Linked DNA regions of Homo sapiens: region 1 is linked to region 2. The links come from fine-mapping of genetic effects on gene expression. A gene starts in region 2. The other region holds a variant in brackets. All regions are shown on one strand. Distances are from middle to middle. Region 1 overlaps COL13A1 (collagen type XIII alpha 1 chain). Region 2 holds the start of MACROH2A2 (macroH2A.2 histone).

The links.
Region 1: its variant is fine-mapped to the expression of MACROH2A2 in macrophages (Nedelec 2016, PIP 0.95). The same link has a PIP of 0.9 or more in monocytes after LPS.

What each region holds. Positions count from the first base shown.
Region 1 is chr10:69,950,825-69,956,195 of GRCh38, forward strand. It overlaps COL13A1 (collagen type XIII alpha 1 chain), which reads left to right. Exons shown (of 41, transcript NM_001368882.1): 39 at 2,058-2,144. It overlaps LOC107984242 (a long non-coding RNA gene), which reads right to left. Exons shown (of 4, transcript XR_007062181.1): 4 at 4,071-4,154. Among named protein-coding and RNA genes, the nearest start is that of LINC02636, 56 kb to the right of the region's middle. The variant T/C (reference allele first, on the strand shown) is at 3,344.
Region 2 is chr10:70,050,671-70,056,041 of GRCh38, forward strand. MACROH2A2 (macroH2A.2 histone) reads left to right here and starts at 2,176. Exons shown (of 9, transcript NM_018649.3): 1 at 2,176-2,330.

The DNA of each region.
Region 1 (5,371 bases), 100 kb before region 2:
GAAGAACATCAAAAATATTATTTTGTTTGTTTGTTTGTTTGTTTGTGAGAGTCTCACTCTGTCACCCAGGCTGGAGTGCAGTGGCACAATCTCAGCTCACTGCAACCTCTGCCTCCTGGGTTCAAGCGATTCTCCTGCCTCAGCCTCCCGAGTAGCTAGGATTACAGGCTAGTGCCACCACACCAGGCTAATTTTTGTATTTTTAGTAGAGATGGGGTTTTGCCATGTTGGCCAGGCTGGTCTCGAACTCCTGACCTCCAGTGATCCGCCCGCCTCCGCCTCCCAAAGTGCTGGGATTACAGACATGAGCCACTGTGCCCAGCCAAAAATATTCTTATCCTCTGCCTTCCTCTAATGAACATCTACCCTGCAGCCTTCCACTGCAGGAACAGTGCACATGACAACCTCTGACCCCAACCTTTGGCTCCTATACTGGCTAAAAAGAAATAATGACCATTATTATCATTATGAAGCAGCTATCGTTTACTGTGCACATACTATATTCCATTATTAAGCATTTAATGTGCACAAAGAACTCACAACATTTTTTTTTCAGACAGGGTCTTGCTTTGTTGCCCAGGCTGAAGTGTAGTGGTGCAATCATGGTTGACTGCTGCCTCAAACTCTTGTCCTTGGCTCAAGTGATCTTTCTGCCTCAAACTCCTGAGTAGCTAGGACTACAGGGACATGCCACCACACCCGACTAATTTTTTTATTCTTTGCAAAAATGAGGTCTTGCTTTATTGTCCAGGCTGGCCTCGAACTCCTGGCCTCAAGTGACCCTCCTGCCTTGGCCTCCCAAAATGCTGGGATTACAGACATGAGCCACCATGCCCAGCCTCACAACAAATTTTTGAGGCAGGTATTATTGTACTCATTTTACAGGTAAAGAAACTAAGGCTCAAAGAAGTAACTTCACAAAGTCACGCAGCTAACTGTCAGAACCAACTCTGACTGCAAGCCTTTGTTCTAATACGCTGCCCAGCATTCAGTGTCACCCTGGAGTGACACAGTTGAAGTCCCCAAGCGTTAGATAATCCCCCTTCCATAGAGGAGGGGAGCTCCCAGGAAGACTCCCTAGGGGCATACTGAGCCCCCTTTTTAGGAAACACATATAAAAATGCAAATGCAAATTCATTACAGAAGTGATGCTTCACTTTTAAAAAGAATTCCCCACAGCCCTTCTTTAAATAGACTCTGACACATACAATATAGGATTCAATTTAGAAAAATGATGTTTACTGTAGCTTTTCAGAAACAAATGAATTCCTTAAACCAACATATTCATATACAAATAACGGTCTGACTTCAGACCAGGATGAACCAGAGACACAGATAGAACAGGAGAAGCCAGCTGAGCACAAGGGGCCATCCGTGAGCTCTGGACACACACATACATATGTGCACATGGACACACATGCATAATAAAGGCACACACATGTGTTCACGTGCCCAAGCACATACCCACACACACTCAAACGTGGGCACACACACACATATACACAAGCACATACCTGTATACTCATACATACATATACACACATGTGCACAAGCACATATATGCATACACTCATACATGCTATGTTCACACACATCCCAGGGCTCCAAGCAAAATCACCTTGCCTCCTAATAGAATGTCAAAAGGATAAACATTAATTGGGGAAAAAAAAAGTTTTCACCCCAAAGCCTTTCAAAAACAGACTCAAAGAGAAGGAAGTTGGTCCCTAGCCACTGTGTTCAGCACAGACCCACGCTGGGCTTAGTATTAGCAAAACCGGCCACCAAAATCTTCAGTCTGTGGTTCCCTGCACCTGCAGCTCTGAGCCCTCTGCCTGTCCTCCCCTCCCCCTCCCACCCACCTTAGCCAAATTCTCAGGTTCCTGGGGGGTGGGGAGGAGGTGGGTATTGACTCCAAATCCTACTGGGGAGAATATCCTAATTTAAAGCATCTCTTTTTCCCTTTTTAATTTTATTTTTCTTTTTCTGTCTTCAACCTTAACACATGAATGATCTTAAAGTTTTGATGTTTTTTTCTCGGACTAAACCATTATTTACAGGGGGAGAGGGGGAAGAAAGGCTCTAGAGGGCCTAAAGGGGATAAGGGAGACCAAGGAGCGCCTGGATTAGATGCCCCCTGCCCATTGGTATGTTTTTGTTTATCACTTGCATTGTTCTGGTTTTTGTTCTTGAGGTTTGTAAGTTGGAAACAAAGAAGGCAAATAAACTAAGATGAGAACCAAATGTCTACACGGATGCTACCAAAATCTCTCTGTTCATTTGACTGGTGAAATTCTGCCCGCTGTTGGATTTGCTTTGTAACCACAGCTGCAAGTAATTCTGGCTAAATCCCTTGCCTTTGAATCCTTTTCCTTTGAAGATACAGAGCAATCGATGTGTGGAAGTGAGGAAACCACTAGGAAAGGGATTTTCAGGGAAGGCCTCAGCTCTTAGCTCCAGGATGGCTTTGGAAGCCAGTGTAGCATTTGTGAGCCACGGATTTGCCTTCTTCGTTTCATGGCCACCTCTGTGGGCCAGTAGTTCAAGCTGTCTGAATCCTCACTTGATCAGGATGCAGGACACCAGAGTTAGCGTCTCCTCAGGGCCACTGATGCTCAAAACTGGGCAGAACAAGGCCAGATGAGGGGCTTCTAATGCACAGCCTCCCAACACTCACCAGCCATCCAGCTGAAACCTTTAAAGCTGCAGACCAGAACTGGTAGTCAGACAGACACCCCATGGGAAGCCTTCTCAAAAGAGCCAGCAATTAATGATGAGGCACTTCTGCTGGGTTTCTCAAGTGCCTTTGAATCCATTTGAAGGTTCTAAAAATTATGATGCACTAAAGTTGAAGTTTGTCTGTGTTTACACTAAGTGAGTCTGTAGAGAGAGGAGGATCAACGGAGAGGGGGCAGGTTGTATGTGTGCAAAGCTGAACTCTCCAGAGCACAAAGAGAGCACAAAAGCTGGATTTGGGAGATGGGGGATCACCTGGGATTTAGCCCCTGTTTGTAGATGCCTCAAGGGTCCTGCATCCTGGCCAGGGTAGGACTGGGCCTCTCTATTCCATGGTTGGAGCTGGCCAGCCTTGACCTGAATAATCATCGTGGTTGGTTTTGTGAACAGGGACACCGAGGTTTTAAAGGAGAGAAAGGGGAGCCGGGGTTACCAGGGCTGGACGGACTGGATGCCCCATGCCCATTGGTATGGCATTGCCCTTGCTTGCCTGCATGGCCGATTTGGGCTTCCCCATGTGTGTGATTCATACTGGGTTTCTCCCCAGCCACCCTCCACACTCCTCCTCCATCCCCCCCAGGCTCCACTTCCCACTTCTTCATTCTGTAAA[T/C]GCCAAGGGTCACCCCGCCTAGGCTAGTACTCTGGGGGCTCCCAGTCATGCCACCCTCTTGCATGCAAAGTTTACTGGGATGTTTCCTGGCTTCCTGCTGCAGCTACCTCTAAAGCACAGCCACTTGATGCCAGCCAGCTCTCCCACCCTGAAGTTGGTTTTGGCTGCCTCTGATACTCATCTCCAAGCTGATTCTAGACAAAGCTGCCACCAGATACCAGCTAGGAAAGTGGATTCTCTGGACTGGTTTTCAGAACCATGACTCACTTCTTTTCCTTCAGGCAGTGAAGTTAGTTCAGAATCACTGGCTGAGCACCTAGCGAAACATGTGAATGAGATGCCTGATCAGCCCTGTATCCCCTGCTCCTCCATCACATGATTTGGGGGACAGAAGGGCATGATTACAGAGTAGACTGAGAAGCTCTAGAAGTGAGCTGGAGGAGGGGCCACCTGCCTATTCTTCCAGGTTGGATCGTGGGTCGCTGCCCAGGTGACACCATCAGAACTAGGGGATGGTCCAGGATTAGGTTTTCGGATCCTAAAGGGTTTGTCCTTCTTGCTTAAATCTCCAAAGACATTACCAGACCCTTCCTCGTCCCTTTCTTTCATGATCAGATGGCTTCTTACTGAAGAGTCTGGGAGAGACGGAAAGGTCAAGAATGTAGTTAAGGAGGAGGCAGGGAGACAGCTAAGGACCTCTCTTCCAAGCACGTCCCAGGCGAAGTGGTAGCAGTTTATTCCCGCCTGCCCAGTCCCTCTCTAGGCATGGACAGTCTAGGCCTCCACGCTGATCCTCTTACTGCAAAAGAAGCTGAAGGGAACACTTCACTCCAAGGCTCAAGGGGTTACAGCTCTCCCCAAATTTCCCCAATAGGTTTGGAGTTCAAGAGCTATTTTATCATACCAGTAATAAGAGAATTTGGGGTCTCACATCCCCGCCCTGGGGTCACACAGGAATTCTCTTTGAACAAAAGAGAAAAAGATACAAGAAATTATGCTGTGTGACCCTGAAAGGTGGTCGTAGAGCCCCTTGAAGGGCAGTAGGGACTTTTTAGGAGGAGCATAGGCAACAAAAGGAGAGTGCAGAGCAAGCAGGCGGGTAGCATGCTTCCTGTCCCTGCTGGTCCTGCCAAACCCTGCGCTTGCAGACTGCACAGCCACCTTTCTCAACCAGGACTTCCACCATCCACGCACCAATGGGAATGCCGCTCTGGCCCGCAGGGGCTCCCTTGAGCACTGGCCAGGTCTTCCCTCAGCCACAATCCCCTCCCACAATCTGGGCACCTTTAGTTCTGCCAGCAGCTGCCTTGGCCTCTCTGTTCCTCACCATACATTACTTTTCATTCTCTGCCTGCCCTGCCCTCCATATCCCCCTGCCACCATCCACACACCAATGGGAATGCCGCTCTGGCCCACAGAGGCTCCTCTCCCTCCCGGCATCCATGTGACGTGTGTCATACCGCACCGTGGCAGGCTGGGGAAGGGGCACAGGGTCACCCTGAAACTGTGGAATGCACCTCCTCCCCCTGCAATCCCCTCCCCAACCCAGAGGGGAAAATGAAGGTCACCCTGATTTGACTCTCCATGTAAAATGGCATTTTCTTCCATAACATCCCATATCAATGTGTCAATTTTCTATTAATTTTACTGGGGAAGTGTCTTCCCCTTGTTTCTCACTCTGCCTCCTCCTCTGTGTTATTATGGGCTTGAGGGGCAGGGGTAGCTATTGCTCATGACTTTTACTACAAGATAACCAGACTTCCTAAGCCCTCCATATTGGGACCAATTTCTGCTGAATGCCAGGTGATGAGAGGTTTCAGCCCCTGGCGTGGGTGGATGACGTCAGACCAGGGCAGCAGAGGACTCTCATTCCACAAGCTCCCTCAGGACTGAGCACTTGCTCCGGGTCTCCTGAAGCCCCATGTCCATCTCCTTGTCTGCCCTGCCAGTCTAGCAGACTTGGGCTGAGAACCAGACCTTTGCCCTTGGCCCAGCCTCGCCTTCCCCACTGGGTCTCTAGATTTCTAG
Region 2 (5,371 bases):
TATTTGTCCCCTATACATCCTGAAAAGTTTGGAATTGGCGGAAACTGCATTGACTGGGTATCTGGACATGCATTGGAGGATCTCCCACTAATGTCCTGCGAGGCCATGGCTGAGTCATTTCACCCTTCCAAATACCAGATTTCTTCCTATAGCAAAGGTTTCCACTAGGTGAACTCTAAGAACCCTTTTATCCTAAGAATCAGAGTATTTTGAAGCTGACCTCTTCCTTGATTTTCTGAGTTGTGACAGCATCATCTGTCTGAAGAAACCAACCAGTATGAAATGGGAGAATCCTAACCAGTAAATTTACTAGATCCAGCCTCTCTCAGGATAGCACATAACAAAATGCTAGAATGAACTGTTATATAAAATTCACATAAAAATGACCACATATGCCACTTTTATTGGGAAATTACAAGGAGAATGTGAATCTAATATCTACTGATGAATTATTCAACTATATTTCAGTCAGCCTGGCTGACTGGATGACAGAGTATGAGTATTTTTCAAGCACTCATAGAAAACTCCTGAACTCTCTTGAATGTTGGCTTGATGGTTATTTCTGGTGAAGAATGGACACCTGAAGGTATAAGAAGAGAGACCCTTTCTTTAGGAATGGGAAAGGACATCATTATGGGATGCCCCAGGGGATCATTTGAAACCCTTTAAATATACATCTTGGGGAAAGAAGACTTTATCCTGACTGGATATCTGACCTGGAAAATACCTTCCAAGACAAAGAACAGTGAGGTCATACACAGAGGGCGTGAAAGGCTTAGGAAAAGAGTAAAGGAAGCCCCAAGAAACAGAGACTGTTGAGTCCAGGGGAGTTTGAGAAGCCATAGGAGACTGAAATAGAGGCTTATGCATATGTTGATGATATATGCGTGATTTGGAGGAAGTCAGAGAGAAACATGGCTGATTTCTCAGCAAATACACTTTAAAATGCACATGTTCTAAACCTAACCCGCTATCTATAAACGCCAGCAATAGCCATGATTAACTAACTAGTAGAGACGCAGAGGGTGGTAGGCATGAGTTCTTCCCACTCAGGCACTGGGAGGCTTTCAGTCACTCCAAAGTCCCCACTGCCTAAATAGTTACAAGTTTGTAGTAGCAAATATACACAATATTACCAAATGTAACAGCTTTAAAAATCAGCCATTTGGCCAAGGCTGGAGAATTCTGTTTGCACCGGTTTCTCTTTTTGGAAGGGATCAAAATGTTGCCTCTCACAGTCCTTTGACTGTAGGAGAAATCAGAGGAAACCTGGATGGTCCACAGCAAGTTAGTATTTCCCACTGAAATAAACACATTCTTTTGACTCCCCTCCAGCCATGGAGCCCTGGCCAACAACTCACAATACAAAGCCGAGACTGGCTTCCACTAGGAACACAGCAACTGCTAATCCCCATTATCACACCCGACAGTGTCCACCACACCCCCATAAAGATGCATTTTCTAGTAACTAATAAAAACTGGTCCTGAAGACAATAGCCTCGCGCTCATCTAAATACCCGTTGGGATATTGCAAATTAACACCTTGTAAAGCAACCCAATTAAAAATTATGCCCATACACACAGTCTCACCCACCAAAACATACATCTGCCTCTCCAAATATTATGCAACGCTGGATTCTAAATCGGTCTTAATTTCTAAAAAGCCTACAGGCACGGATATAAATTCTCAGCTCTCGTGGCTGTGGCCGCCCTATGCACTCTTCCCAGTGGTGGACACAAACGTTAATGTACTTGTTATTATTTAAGGACACAAAAATATAGAAGGTGGCATTTTTCGCTTTCCCCTTCGAAGACTCTCCCCAGAGCTGCCAGATGAACGCCCACGCCACCTTCTCCCACCAAAGGTGGATCCAGCTAACAGGAGACTGGATCGCGACCATAGCGCGTTTGTGCCCAGTTCTGGGGAAAGCCTCATGTTAGCGAGTGGCCCTCGGCTCGTCTCGCAGATCGGCCAAGTACGCGGAGGCCGCGCGGTTTCACCATTAATACTCCTGAAGGACAATAGCTCATCAAGCCCCACCGAAAGCCCCGGACCCGTCGCGGAGCCTGGGCTGGCGGGGGATGAGGCTGAGCAACTCCTCCTAGAGGTGGTTATGTGGAGAAGGAGCAATCCCTTCTCCCTCCTCCTCCTCCCCCCGCTACTATCCGCGGCCCAGAGAACTGCCGCTTGCCGCCATTGACACGCACAGATAGAACCCAAAGAAAGGCAAAGAGTCCTGCCCGGCACCGGCGCCGCGTGGGCCAAACCTGCGCCCGTGGAGGGGCGCGCAGAGGGCACCGGGCGCCGGGAGCAGGCGGCGCAGCACCAGGTGAGCCCGCCATGGCGATGGCATTATTGTTTAGGGTGCTCCGGGGTCTGGAAACAAAACGCGCCGCCGGGGCAGTGCAGGGGCCGGAGAGAACCACCTCTGCCTCTCCCCCGAGCCCCTGCGGGCGCACCCTCGATAGCCGACCCACCCTCTGCAAAAACAAATTCTTAAATCCAGCTGCCCAACTTGCTTCCTTGGGCGATAAAGGGGGGGCTGCTAAAGAAGTGGTCAAATTCCTGCGGCCAGCGAGGGGCCGGGGGCGTCGAGGGTACTGAGAGGGGAAGGAGGAGGGATGCGAGGTTCAGCAGCGGGCCCCAGGCGAGGCTGGACCCGGAGGAAGCGGAGGTCTCCTGGGAATGCGGAGTTTCGGGCGCAGGAGCGGGAGGACGGAGGCGCCCGGCCGCCGATGGGCACGGGGCGATGGGTGGGGGGCTGCGCAGGGCCCGAGGGAGCCCGGGGAGGGCCGCTCGGGGGCCTCTGAAGGTGCCCGGGCAGGGCGCCGGCGGCTCCAGGCTGACAATGGAGGGGGCGCGGAGCAGCCGGGCGGAGGTTAGGGACCCGAGTCCGGGGGCGGGCCGCGCCGGGGAAGGTCAGGTCGGGGACGCCGGGTGGCGGGGCGAGGGCTGGGGGTTGCTGCGCGGACACCCGGGCGCCGCGGGCGGGCGTGCGCCCCGGGGCCGGCGCGGAAGAGGGCGCGAGGCCGGGCACTCCCCTTCGGTTCCCTTTCCGGGGCGCCCGGTGCCGACGCGCGCTGCGCTTTCACCGGGAAATGGCGGCCCGGCCGTGGCTCGCCTGGGCAGTCTGGCTCCCGCTTTGCGCGGGAAAAAATAATAATAATAAAAATATCGAAAAAGGGAATAAAAGTAAACTGGCTGCGGCGCAGGAAAGGGCTCTGCCGGGCGCCGGACGCCGTGCGTATCGCTCGCGGGGCGCGGCGGTTGGGGACCAGCCCTGCCTCCCCCGGCTCCCAGCCTCCAGCCCCGGCGCACCTCAGCCCCAGCCCGGCCAGCCCCCCGGATCGCCCGTGGGTGTCCTCCCCCGCCTTTCCTTGGGGGGGCGCCCTCAGTTCTTGCCCTCTTTGTTCCTTACAACAATGGCCAAAGGGGCATTGGTTCCCCAAGGGCCAAACGAGCTTCCTCCAGGAGTTTCCCGTCGCGTGCAGTGGACCACCGTGGGCCTGACTGAGGCCTGGTCCTTGCCAGGGTTTTTTGGCAACGGCCCTGGATGAGTGAAGGGATGAAAGGCGCGAGAAGAAATGGGCTGAGAAACCAAAGTGCGGGGCCCTGAGTGTTTGAGGGGACGCGATGGGAACCGTGGCTCCGCTGCCCTGATTTTAAGGGCAGTTACCCTGTCACAGCCACGCTGGAACTGAGGTGTCCTTCCAGCTTCTGTCCACCTCAGAGGAATTCAAAACAAGGGCCCAGTTCTAAGCCCCACAGACCCCAGGATCCCCTAGGGGCCATTAGTCCACCGCGGCAAATGGTTTCCTCACTTTGCTCATTTGTGTTTGTTTTGAAATCCAATTGTCACCTCACTGGGCTGCACAGTTGCTACTGAAACGGTTCAATAGGTGAGAGAAAAAGAAAACATTATTAAGAGCGAGAACGTGTCTTCGTGTGTGTTGTTTTGAACCACAAACTAAGCTACACATAATTCTCAATCCGTTTTAACACACTTTTTATTTTCAAACTAAATGTTAAGAGCTCCAAGATTTGGAAACATACTGGTGATTTTTAGAATTGTTTTAGCCTAAAATTACATATAAATAAATAGAGGCACTGCCCGGCGGAAAAGTTTATCTTGAGTCGCATAATTCACATCTTCATAACCCCTCTTTCCTGTAGCCAAATTTCCTTTTAAAACATGCCCAGTTCTCCTCTTCTCTGGTTTTTCCTATCCTACCACAGTTACACCTCACCTGGATCCATTAATTGTCAGACTTTACACATTATTAGTGGTTTCCTCTATATCAAAACTGCGTAAAAGAATTTACCTCCTTGAATCCGGAGTGTCCCTGTGATTCTGACCCTACTCCCTCACCATTCCATCTTCTGTCTGGTTCCCAGGATTTTTAAAGCGCCTCTGGTCTGCCATTTCCCAGTGGGTGGGACACCCTGCTAGCTATTGTCTGAGACAACCACATCTGTTTTCACTGCCTCCTGCCAGCAGAACAGGAGGTGAGTCCTGTCTTAGGCAACTTTAAATGAAAGGTATCTGTAACTTGTTACCGGGGAGGGATGTGCAAAAATTCAGCCAACTTTCTTAAGAATGTTTTTCAACCTTAAGAAATAACCTCCAAGTTAGATGCAGTCTTGGTAAATGGAAAGTATATTGCACAGAGATTAACAAAGAACTTGTGGTTAGAGATCATTCAACAAACACTTATTGAGCACCAAGTCTTTTGTTGTTTGTTTTGTTGTTGTTTTGAGATGGGGGTCTCGCTATATTGCTCAGACTGGTCTCGAAATCCTGGGTTCAAGGGGTCCTCCCATCTCAGCCTCCTGAGTATACACCAATTCTTAAACACCTCTAGATAGGGAAAGAAATGAAATATAAGGAAGTCATTGGGCCCTTCTCTCATAAAGCTTACAACCCCAAGCCTAGGAGATAAAATATACATGCAGGTAAAACAAGGTAAAAAGTGATTTTGGCAAGCTAGTGGGAAAACAGGTACTTTCATATACTGCTGACTGGTGTGTAAATTGATATAACCAATTGGAAGAGCAGTTTGGCACTATAAAATTAATAATGCACACATTCTGTGACTCACCATTCCATTTCTCAGTATGTCACCCAAAGAAGCAGGCATCCGTGAGCTCAGCATGTATAAGGATGTTCATTGCAATTTTGGTCATTCTGAAGTAGAAAACAGCCTAACAGCCATCAACAGGGAATGGCTAAATAAACTCTGGTGCATCTGTCTTCTGGAATATTAGGCAGCAGTTCAAAAGAATGAAGCAGATCTATACATACTGAGACAGAAAAAGATCACCAAGATGTACTATTAATGAAAAAAGCAAATTGCAGAACAGTACATACTA